Linked DNA regions of Homo sapiens: region 1 is linked to region 2. Evidence: fine-mapped expression QTL. Tissue or cell type: monocytes after Pam3CSK4. Region 2 holds a variant in brackets; the other region holds the start of a gene. All regions are shown on one strand. Distances are from middle to middle.

Region 1 (5,384 bases), 65 kb before region 2:
GACAATACTTTGTTGGGGGTGCTTAATCTGTGGCAATACTGAGGAGACAGAATTGGGATGTTTTTCTTCAGGGAGGATTTACATTTCCTTTTTCTGGTCAAAAGTAGTACTAGGGTTTGGATGTAATTTCTCCCTACCAAAACATGTTAACATATAATTGCCAATGTAGCAGCATTGGGAGGTGGTGTTTTTAAGAGGTGATTAGGCTGTTAAGATGGGTTTTTCACAAGCCTGGTTTAGTTCTTGAGGTTGGATTAATTCTCATAGAAATAGATTAGTTCTTCCAAGAGTGGGTTGTTATAAAACTCATTAGCCTCCTTTGTCCTGTCCCTCTTTGCACACATCTGCATACCTTTCTGCTTTTCTACCATGTTGTACCTCAGCATGTGGCCCTCACCAGAAGCCAAACAGCTCCTGGTGCAATGTTCTTGGACTTTCCAGCCAGCAGAACTGTGAGCCAAATGAGTTTCTTTTCTTTATAAATTATCCAGACTCAGGTATTCTATTAAAGCAACACTAAATTGACTAAGACAGGGTGGGAGGAAGTAGGTGAGTGGTACTTTAACTAAAATCTTAGTGGGTGACCTTGAATAGTAATTCTCAAAGAAATTCTCAGAGAAAATTGTTATTTCTTCTCTTTTTTTCCCCTCATAGTGAAGACAGGTTTCATTACAGACTCCCTCTTTTTGGCCAATGGATTTTTTTCCTAGACTACTTTTTCCCTGAGGGTCTAGATCCTTCAAGACTTTTAGTGTAATGAGGGCATTTCAGTTTTGTACAAGCCCATATTATTATCTCCCATTCCCTTGTGGGATATTAACCCTGAAATCTCTAGGAGTCTGAAGCCACATTTTCTGGATTCTAATTCCAGTTCTCCCACACACTATTGTGTAACCATGAACAAGGTACTTCTCCGTGCTTCAGTTTCCTCTTCTATAAAATGAATATTGGTCCTAGTTCTTCCCCCACAGGAATGTTATGAGTAATAAGTGAACCGACTTTATTAAAATTCATGGACCAGTGCCTGGCCCATTGGGAGTGCTCTAAAAATGCTTGCACTTACTTACTCAGTATTAGCAAGTGCCTCCATGTTAGTTTAAGGCTTACTCATTCAGTTTTAGCTCACTGAACTTCTAAAAAAATGGATTTCAAGGATTTCCTTTATTTTCTTTCAAGCTGTCTGTTATAATTTATCCAGAATCTAGCTGAATTACAGAAGGAAGCTTTTTGACTACTCAATTTATGTGTTGTGGAGTCTGAGCTGAAGGCAGCAACCAAGGCAGGTTTAAGGGTTTGCCAGGGGACCTGGGGTCCCTTGAACATTTTAAGCTGTTCAGGAAGAGGAAAGGGTAAACACAGAACAATCAAGGGCTGTTTTGTTCCAGGCTCTCTTTAGAGGCATGACCATATAAGCCCCACTTTCTGCTATATTGGAAGCCCTCCCTGACTGCTCTGATAATGCTAAATGGAAATGGCTACTATCTTCTTTTCCCTACACTTTAGGATATGTATCATCTTTCTCTCAGTCAACCTTACATCGTCAGCATATAGCAGTTCTCCATAAATGTTTGTTAAATGCATGAATGAAGCTGGGTGCAGTGGCTCTCGCCTGTAATCCCAGCACTTTGGGAGGCAAAGGTGGGTGGATTGCTTGAGCCCAGGAATTCCATACCAGCCTGGGCAATATAGTGAGACCGCATCTCAAATTAAAAAACAAAAAAAAAAGGAAAAAAATGCATGAATGAATGAGTCCAAGACAAAGGCACTGGAGGAAAAAACATATATGAAGAGTGGACTCTTTCTGTGATTTAAAATGTGAAACCTCCCCATAACTTTTCAACACGTTAAATTTTCATGAACAAGACAACTGTTAAATATTATTTAAAGATATGGGAGTAACTAACTGAACAAAAAGCAAAATCATAAAAACTGGCTGCTTCTGAATAGTGCAAGGAAAAGTAAGAAAAGGTGAGTCAGGGATCTATCCTTTTTCTGTAAAAGCCCTCTGCATGGTTTTATTTTTAACTACAAACTATTTAATTATTAACTATGTACAACTAAGTTAAAATATTTAAAATGAAAAATCAGTCAATTTTTGACCTGCTGTAAGTCAAAGCATCCTGCTGTGCTTTTGACCTCATACAGTTGAGTACAGTTGTTTTTTTGTTTTTGTTTTTGTTTTTGTTTTTTTAAGTTTTGTGCCAAGAGTCCTGACTACCAAACTGTGTTGACCCAAAGCTTGATTAACAAATAAAGCTTGGTTAACCAAAGCTTGGTTAACAAATAAACAGAACTTTGAACTTTAATAAAGCAGTTCTAATGGACCTAGACTGGGTTGGGCAGGCCTACTGACTGCTGCCTGAAGGTTGCTGTAAAGGGACTAAGTAAATCAATTAACTCCACAGTTTTCACAAAGGTCTCTTGATATCAAAACTTCTTTCCTTGCATGCTTCTCTGATCCTGTGGAGATGAAAATTGACATCCATAGTCATATTCTACCAAAAGAATGGCCAGATCTAAAAAAGGTAATGGTAATTAATTTGCTGAATTATTTCTGAAACTTCTCCAGGGTTTCTCAATGCCTTTCTCTTCTTTGTGGAATTAGATGTCTAGTTTATCTGCTTTGGTGGGGGGCGAGGGGGTTAAATCATTTGGTAGTTCTGATTTTCTAGCTTTTAAAAATGACTTTTATATTTATTTTGAAATAACATTGGATTAAAGAAATAAGTGCTTTCTCAGAAACCCTTTTTTCCCTCAAATGAACCATTCTTTAAAATATCTGGACAATTTAAATAAGGCAGATTTACCTTTTCAAAAATCACATATTCAGCTGCTGGGAAGATACATGCCAACTACAGAATTTAAAGTTACAATTTTAAGTAGAAGACCATTAAAAATGGAATGTGATCGGTTTCAAGGACTTCTAAAATATATCTCCTTTCCAAAATGTTTAAAATAAGTTTTAGAAGCACCAAGAGATAGCTTTGTGAATTTTTTTAGTCTATTTTAGGACACTGCCTGAAACCTTTACTGTTTGATGTTCTTTATTCTATAAATCTTTGTCCTGAAGAACTAGGAAGTAGGTACATCAAAAAACCCGAGAATAAATGACATGAAGCTTTTGCACAGTGACATCTCCTAAGAGAGTATTCTTTGTGTTTCTCTAAAGATGGAAATTTCCTTTTGTCATTAAGAACTTTTGAATGAATATAAAAAGAGGAAGGTGAGGAACATGAAAGAAATGTAAAATTGGCTAGAGGTTTGTTCAGGCTTAATATCAGGTTTTACCCAATCTTCAGCATTCTGCCAGTACTTTCACACCACCGATAATGTTTCAACTTTTTTATCCCAAGTGAGGGAAAATGAATTAACCCAAACTTGAATTAAATGTGGTTCATTGTGCAAATAGATGAAACTATTTTCTTCTCATAGTTGTCTCATTGAAGAATGTTTATCTTAAGTATTTCTTTGTCCATTGGTATCTTAGGTAAGAGGGGTGGTAGAAACTGTGGATTGAAAAACAAAATCTTTGAAAGCCTATCCTATGCACAGCTAACGATAAAAGATAAACCTCTCAACCTGCTCTTCCTAAAAGGACTCTACATGTTTACACAGGAACATGCTGTTCTGAGTGCTGTTGTCCTCATCATAGTTTACTGAAGTGTAAACCACTTCACAATGTTAATGATTTCATGAAGGGAATGCACCAGTTACTTTGTGGGAGTGCATCTGCCTTGTTTAGAAGCTGCATGCAGTTTCTTACATCTTATGGCGCCCACCACTTTCTACCCCTCATTTATGAGTATTTGCCTGATGAATGATGCAATGAACACATTGACTAACTTGTGATACAGGTAATGGAAGCAATAGATTATACTCCCTAATCTGAGAGTTTTAGAAAAATCCAAATTTTAGTATTTGGTATTTTAAAATAGCCATAAACTATACCTAGCAAAAAAAAAAAAAAAAAAAAAAAAAACCACTAATTCCTCTGTTACAGCTTTTTTCTCTATTTGAGTATGAAAGAATATCCACATGAAATGCTTTGGAAACCACCACGGTGGTCTCTAGAGGACAACGCCCCCCTGTACTATCCCACTGAGAAAGCTAGCTAGCATGATCGACCCTCCAAGCAGGGCTCCAAGCTCCAGGGCATACACCTCCTTGTGCAGACAGGATTTTGAGGCTTAGAGAGAGCTACAGTCTGAATGTGTATGTCCCCCCCAAAATTCAGGTGAAACCCTCATCCACAAGGCAATGGTATTAGGAGATGCAGCCTTCTGGAGGTGATTAGGTAATGAGAGCAGAGCCCTCATGTATGAGATTAGTGCCCTTATAAAGTAAGCCCAAGGAAGCTTGTTCGCCCCTTCTGCCACGTGAGGGCACAGCAAGAAGGCACCATCTTAGAACCAGGAAGCGGGTTCTCACCAGATCTTGGACTTCCCAGCTTCCAAACTCCCTCTCCTTTCTATCACCAGCTATTGCTTTAAAGAGGGAGAGGAATTTTGTCCCAATAAACCAGGTTTCTTCTTCTTTTTTTATTTTTATGTATTTATTTTTATTTCCATAGGCTATTGGGGAACAGGTGGTGTTTGGTTACATGAGTAAGTTCTTTAGTGGTGATTTGTGAGATTTTGGTGCACCCATCACCCAAGCAGTATACACTGCACCCAATTTTAGTCTTTTATCCCTCATCTGCTTCCCACCCTTTCCCCGAGTCCCCAAAGTCCATCGTGTCATTCTTATGCCTTTGCATCCTCATAACTTAGCTACCACTTATGAGTGAGAACATATGATGTTTGGTTTTTCATTCCAAACCAGGTTTCTTCTTATGTAGTAGTCTCATATGCTGCAAGCAGACAGCTGATACACTTCATCATCACCATCTACATCATTTCCATCATTATAGTCATAACACTTCGTACTTCCAGGGAGAGACAGAGGGAGAAATAATTTACATAAACCTTGTGAAATATGCAGATAAGATTTATATTATTCACTTGACAGATGAGATGCTTGAGACTCAGAAATGAACCTAGAATCCCAGAGCTATGAGAGGCCACCGTGGTCCCTCAAGAGCCTCCCCACCACCACACCCATCTTGAGAAAACTGGCCCAAGAGAGTACTGCTGCTGGAATAACCTTGACCTTCTTGCACAATGAAGAGACAGAAAAGCAGAATCAACACGCCTGAAGTGATGTTTAATTAATGATGATAATGGACGGGGATTTGAGAAATCTTTTCATTTTCGCTTGCTAATAATAATTTTAGTCAGAGTTACAAGTAGGGTTCTTGAAAAAAAAACATATCTGACGTATAAAGACAATGGATTCAGGGATACTTGATCAAATTGTTTCTGATGAATGAGGACCCACACTCTCTG
Region 2 (5,336 bases):
CTTCTTAAATCTCTTCTTTCAGCAGAGTTGATATAGTTTATAGCTGGGGAGTCCATTTCTTATGTGAAAATTTTAAGATGTACGGATTTGTACCCTCATCTGAGACCCTTCATTTATATCACTTCTCTTGCTCTGAAAAAGCTTAACTTTTATTTAGGGCCATGTGAAAACAACAACACATATGTCTAGCAGCTGGGGGATGGCTAGATGACTTTTGAGCACCTTTTGCAGCCCTCTTGTCCCACAGACCTAACTGTACCTTTTCTCTGTATTTGCCCCCAAATGGTCCTTAAGATCCAAGCTGTTAGAGGGTCCAGTTTCCAAACAAGGGCACCTCCTAAGGAGGGCTCTCCCCTTTATAAGTCTCTTCTCTCCCCCTACAATCAAGTTTCAGATTTAGATTTCAAACAGCGGGGCAAAACATAGGTCAAGAGGATTTTGGTAAGAGATTCACTGTATAACCTGCTAGTATTTTTCTCTCATATTGGGGAGCTGATTTTTTTAAACCTGATCAATGTAGTACTTAAAAGTACTTAAAAAACAACCAATAATGCTTTAAAATATTTTCTTTTCTTTTCAGAATAAACTCAAAGCCGGCAATGCCCTGGCATTTTTGGGTCTTGAGAGAAAACAATTTGAATGACTGAATTTACTACAAAGGCAAACTTTCAAAAGGATATCTCATTTTTGTTTCTAAATATGTATCAACAGGTATCAACAAAATCCTATTTTGAACTATTTTACTCAGAAATGAATGTCCCAAATATCCTAAATTATTCATAATAAAAATGATTTGTAAGTGTTTTCATTCTGAAAAGCAGTACATTATTTCATGTGCAAATAAAAAATGATTTTCCCAGTGCTCTTTTAATTAATCTGGAGAAATACAAAATAAAATGTCATTAATGATTTATATGGAGAAAGATTCATCCTAGAAGACTTAGGTAGGTTGTCCATTTTGAACAAAGATATGTGAATTGGACTCAAATAACCTGTTCCATCTGCCTTTAACACCTACCATTAGCCCAGAACTGGGCTGGGAATGCTTTAGCCTCCACAAAATAAATAACATGAATATAGGATATCCATAACCTCAGGGAGCTTCCAGACCAATTAAGGAGGTAAGAGATGTTCATGGAATAATTACTAAGCTATCAACTTTGAGTGTCAAAGAAGTTTCGTTAAGCGGAATTCACTTTGGTCTAAAACTGTGGAGCAGATCTTCACAGAGGGTGGAACATGAGAGTCCAGGAGATGAATAAGGAATTTTTAGGGTTAGAGGATGGGAAACAGGAAGGCAAAACTATGGGAACACAGCTGTGGTTTCAGACTGAATGAGACATCCATTTTAAAAGTTTTTGTCTATAAATTTACTCCTACCAGAAGCTCTTTTGATTTTAAAATACCGAGCAGAATGTATGAAGCTAACTGTGGAAAGTTAATAGGGCAATACCAGGGTAGCCTTGTTTTACCCATTTCATTTATGGTCCCACTTGGGCTGCTGAAAAGGAACTTGGTCCTGGGATGGGTGATGAAATCTATGGTTCATCTGCCTCTGGCTGAATTCCAAAATCAAGCATGGATTCATTCATTATTTTCCCTTCCATTCATCTAGAAAATCAAGAGTTGAGTATTGACATGTAATTTGTGCTGACCCCTCTCCAGAATAAAGATGAGATCTAATTCTTACTTCACTATGCTCACGCCATTATTTTCACTTTATATAGTTCATTGCCCCACCTCCTTCTCACCCCACCCCCCACCATTTCTTTCTAGGATTTTACTCACCCACCATCTGCTTATTGCTCCAATCTGCCCAAAAAGGAAAACAAAGTTGAACAAAGCAACAACATGAACCATATGTTATTTTTTCCTTCCCCAATCTTTGGGGATAAAGTCCATACCTTTTCAAATATTCTATATTTGAGCACTCTGAATACAGCATTTAATGATTGTTTTATTATAAAAAGTAACCCAATCACTTTATTCAATATCATACACACACATACACATGCAGAGTGAATGGATATATTCATATTCACATGTTTTCTATGTGCCAGGACTATAGGA[A/G]TGCTCCAGGCACTGGGGGTATAGATGTAAACAAAAAAGATAAAATTCCTTTTCTGACAAAACCTACAATCTGAAGAGTGAGAAACATAAATAAGGTAAGGAAGAAGAAAAAGAGGAATAAAAGGAGGAACAGAAGGAGGAAAGAAGGAAGGAAATTTTTCTTATACTGATAAACACTATGAAGAAATTAAAACGAAAATGTGGTAGTGACTAGGAGAAAGATGGGGGGGTAAAACGTTAAATTGTAGAGTCAGAGAAGGCCTCTTTAAAGAGGACTTTCAACTGAGATTTGAATGATAGAACAGTGAAGAAAATGCAAAGGTTCTGAGGCAAGAAACCTCGTGACAAGTTTGTGAGCAAGGAAGGGAGACAGGAGAGGAAGCCAAAAAGTTGGCTAGATCAGTAGATCATGGTCAAGGGTTGAGTTTTTGTTGTTGTTGTTGTTGTTGTTGTTGTTGTTGTTTGAGGCAGAATCGTACCGTCACCAGGCTGGAATGCAGTGGCGCGATCTCGGCTCACTGCAACCTCCGACTCCCTGGTTCAAGTGATTCTCCTGCCTCAGCCTCCTGAGTAGCTAGGATTACAGGCACGTGCCACCAGGTCCAGATAATTTTTTTTTTTGAGACAGAATCTTACCCTGTCGCCAGGCTGGAATGCAGTGGCGCAATCTCGGCTCACTGCAACCTCTGACTCCCTGGTTCAAGTGATTCTTCTGCCTCAGCCTCCTGAGTAGCTAGGATTACAGGCACGCGCCACCAGGTCCAGCTAATTTTTTTTTTTAATAGAGTCGGGGTTTCACCCTGTTGGCCAGGATGGTCTCAATCTCCTGACCTCGTGATCCTCCCGCCTCAGCCTCTCAAAGTGCTGGGATTACAGGCATGAGCCACCACGCCTGCCCAAGATTTTTATCTTGTTTCATAGGAAACCACTGGAGACTTTTTAATAGGTCTGTGACATGCTCGGACTTATGTTATTCTTTTAAAACAAACAAACAAAAAATAGAAGGGTGCAGTGGCTTGCAACAGTAATCCCAACACTTTGAGAGGCTGAGGCAGGAGGATCACTTGAAGCCAGGAGACTGAGACCAGCCTGGGCAACACAGCAATCTCTACAAAAAAAAATTTTTTTTTAATTAGCTGGGTGTGGTGGCTCATTCCTATAATCTCAGCTACTCAGGAGGCTGGGATGGGAGGATGGCTTAAGCCCAGGAGTTCGAGGCTGCAGTGAGCTAGGATCATGCCACTGCACTCCAGCCTGGGTGACAGAGTGAGACCCTGTCTCAGAAAAAAGAGAGGAGAGGAGAGGAGGAAAAAAAGAAAAAAGAAACCCATATACATTAACAGCTTTGTAGAGACCTATTAAAGGGAGTCAAGAAAGGAAGTTGGAGGCTAGGCAAGAAATGATGGTGACTCAGGCATAAATACAAGAATGGGGATCATGAGATATGTTTGTAGGCAGAACCAACAGCATTTAATGATGGACTAAATGTGAGGAAGAGGGAGGAAGGGGAGGAAAGAAATCAAGGCTGACTCCTGGGCATGTGAATGTGAAGTGTGTGTACACATGTGCACACCATGCTTTTGTCAATCAGTCTCCTATATTTGGACATTTAAATAATTCCTAATGTTTTGTAATTATAAATAATACTGCAATAAAATTTGATTCATTTCCCAAATCATACATATGGATAAACTACAACTCTGATTGGATCAAAGATTTAACTCTAAAATATTAAACTATGCAGGTACTAGAAGAAAAGATGCGAGAATTCCTCTTTAATCTGGGTGTAAAGAGGGTTTTCTAACTAGGACTTTCCTGGGCACATACTCCTGGTGACATTTAAGGTTTGAGATGATTAATAGTAGTTAATGGTGTTAAATGCATCCATACTTTAAACATAGGTGCTTTGATTCCCAGGCTTTTCACTTGAACAGCTGGGTAGATTTATTACCATATACCATAATGAGGAAGACTATGGGAGAAACAGTCTTGAGAGGAAAGAGAATCAACAGTTCTGTAGTTGGACTTGTTATATTTCAGATGCCTCTTAGACATTTAAGTAGGAATGTCAAGTAAGCACTTGAGTGTTCTAGTCTGGAGAGTTCAAGAGAGAGGCTAGGGAAAAATCACCAGTGTATAAAAGGTATTTAAAGAAATGAGACTGGATGAAATCACCTGGTGAAAAAGTAGAGTAGAGACGCAAAAGACCCTAGGCCTATTTCCTGGGATTCACTAACACTTAGAAGTTAGATGAAGGCTATACAAAAATTAGCCCGGGCATGGTGGCACGTGCCTGTAATCCCAGCTAATCGGGAAGCTGAGGCAGGAGAATCACTTGAACCCGTGAGGCGGAGGTTGCAGTGAGCCGAGATCGTGCCACTGCACTCCAGCCTGGGTGACAGAGCGAGACTCTGTCTCAAAAAAAAAAAAAAAAAAGTTAGATGAAGGCACCAGCTTTGTGCACAGAAGAGTAGCCAGTGAGGTAGGAGGAAAACCAGGAAAATATACTCAGGAGTCAAGAGCAGACAATGTTTCAAGAAGTCCTAACAGCATTAGGCATACACACACACACACAAAATCAAAGCTACAATACTACGGTATTCAATAGAACCATATGCCTCAGATATAACTCAATCCCTTTATCCCAAAATTTAATTCCACTTCTTACAGTCCCAACCTGATGAATGGCATCACCCAGTCACCTAATCCTTCTCCTTCACCCGTATCAATACACCATTAAATCCAAAAGATTCAACTCATTTTATATCTTTTATTTCTTATCTGTTCTTTCCTCCATATGGCTTCCAACTAAATTCAGGTCTTCATCTCTCAGCAGGATATTGAAATAATCCCTTATTTGTACCCCTGCCCCTTGGCTTAGTCTGGTACAACCCATCTTCTACCTTGGTGCCAGATAAAAATGTCCAAAGTATGTATTTGATTATATTACTTTCTCTGTTAAAATTCCTCAGGACCTAAAGTGCTGGTTTCTAGGCTTTGGGATTTCATCGCTCAGTAACTCCCCCTTCAAAAAACCGAAAACAAAAAAAAAAATGTACTGCTATCTCTAACAGAGCACACCTCTCATTTTGAGTTGTGATTCCTATCTGCCTTCTAGACTGGACTTTCTTGAGGGATGACCTAAGTCTTCATTCACTCATGCATTCAACAAAATTTATTCAGGACTTATGATGGGCCAAGAACCATGCTAGATTCTGAGAGTATGAAAAAAGCAATCATGGTTCCTGCCCTCAGTTGTGCTTATA

Which allele goes with the higher level. Alleles are on the strand shown, and positions count from the first base shown. SD is a standard deviation of normalised expression in the study named.
As copies of A replace G in region 2, the expression in monocytes after Pam3CSK4 of the gene that starts at base 2,402 in region 1 goes up (moderate effect, 0.72 SD a copy in Quach 2016).

What was found.
Region 1: it holds the start of ACMSD, and the variant in region 2 is fine-mapped to the expression of ACMSD in monocytes after Pam3CSK4 (Quach 2016, PIP 0.95).

The regions. Positions count from the first base shown.
Region 1 is chr2:134,836,215-134,841,598 of GRCh38, forward strand. It overlaps ACMSD (aminocarboxymuconate semialdehyde decarboxylase), which reads left to right and starts at 2,402. Exons shown (of 10, transcript NM_138326.3): 1 at 2,402-2,525. The coding sequence starts at 2,469.
Region 2 is chr2:134,901,218-134,906,553 of GRCh38, forward strand. ACMSD (aminocarboxymuconate semialdehyde decarboxylase) reads left to right here. Exons shown (of 10, transcript NM_138326.3): 10 at 581-817. The coding sequence ends at 643. All of the region lies in intron 1 of CCNT2-AS1 (CCNT2 antisense RNA 1), which reads right to left. Among named protein-coding and RNA genes, the nearest start is that of CCNT2-AS1, 15 kb to the right of the region's middle. The variant A/G (reference allele first, on the strand shown) is at 2,071.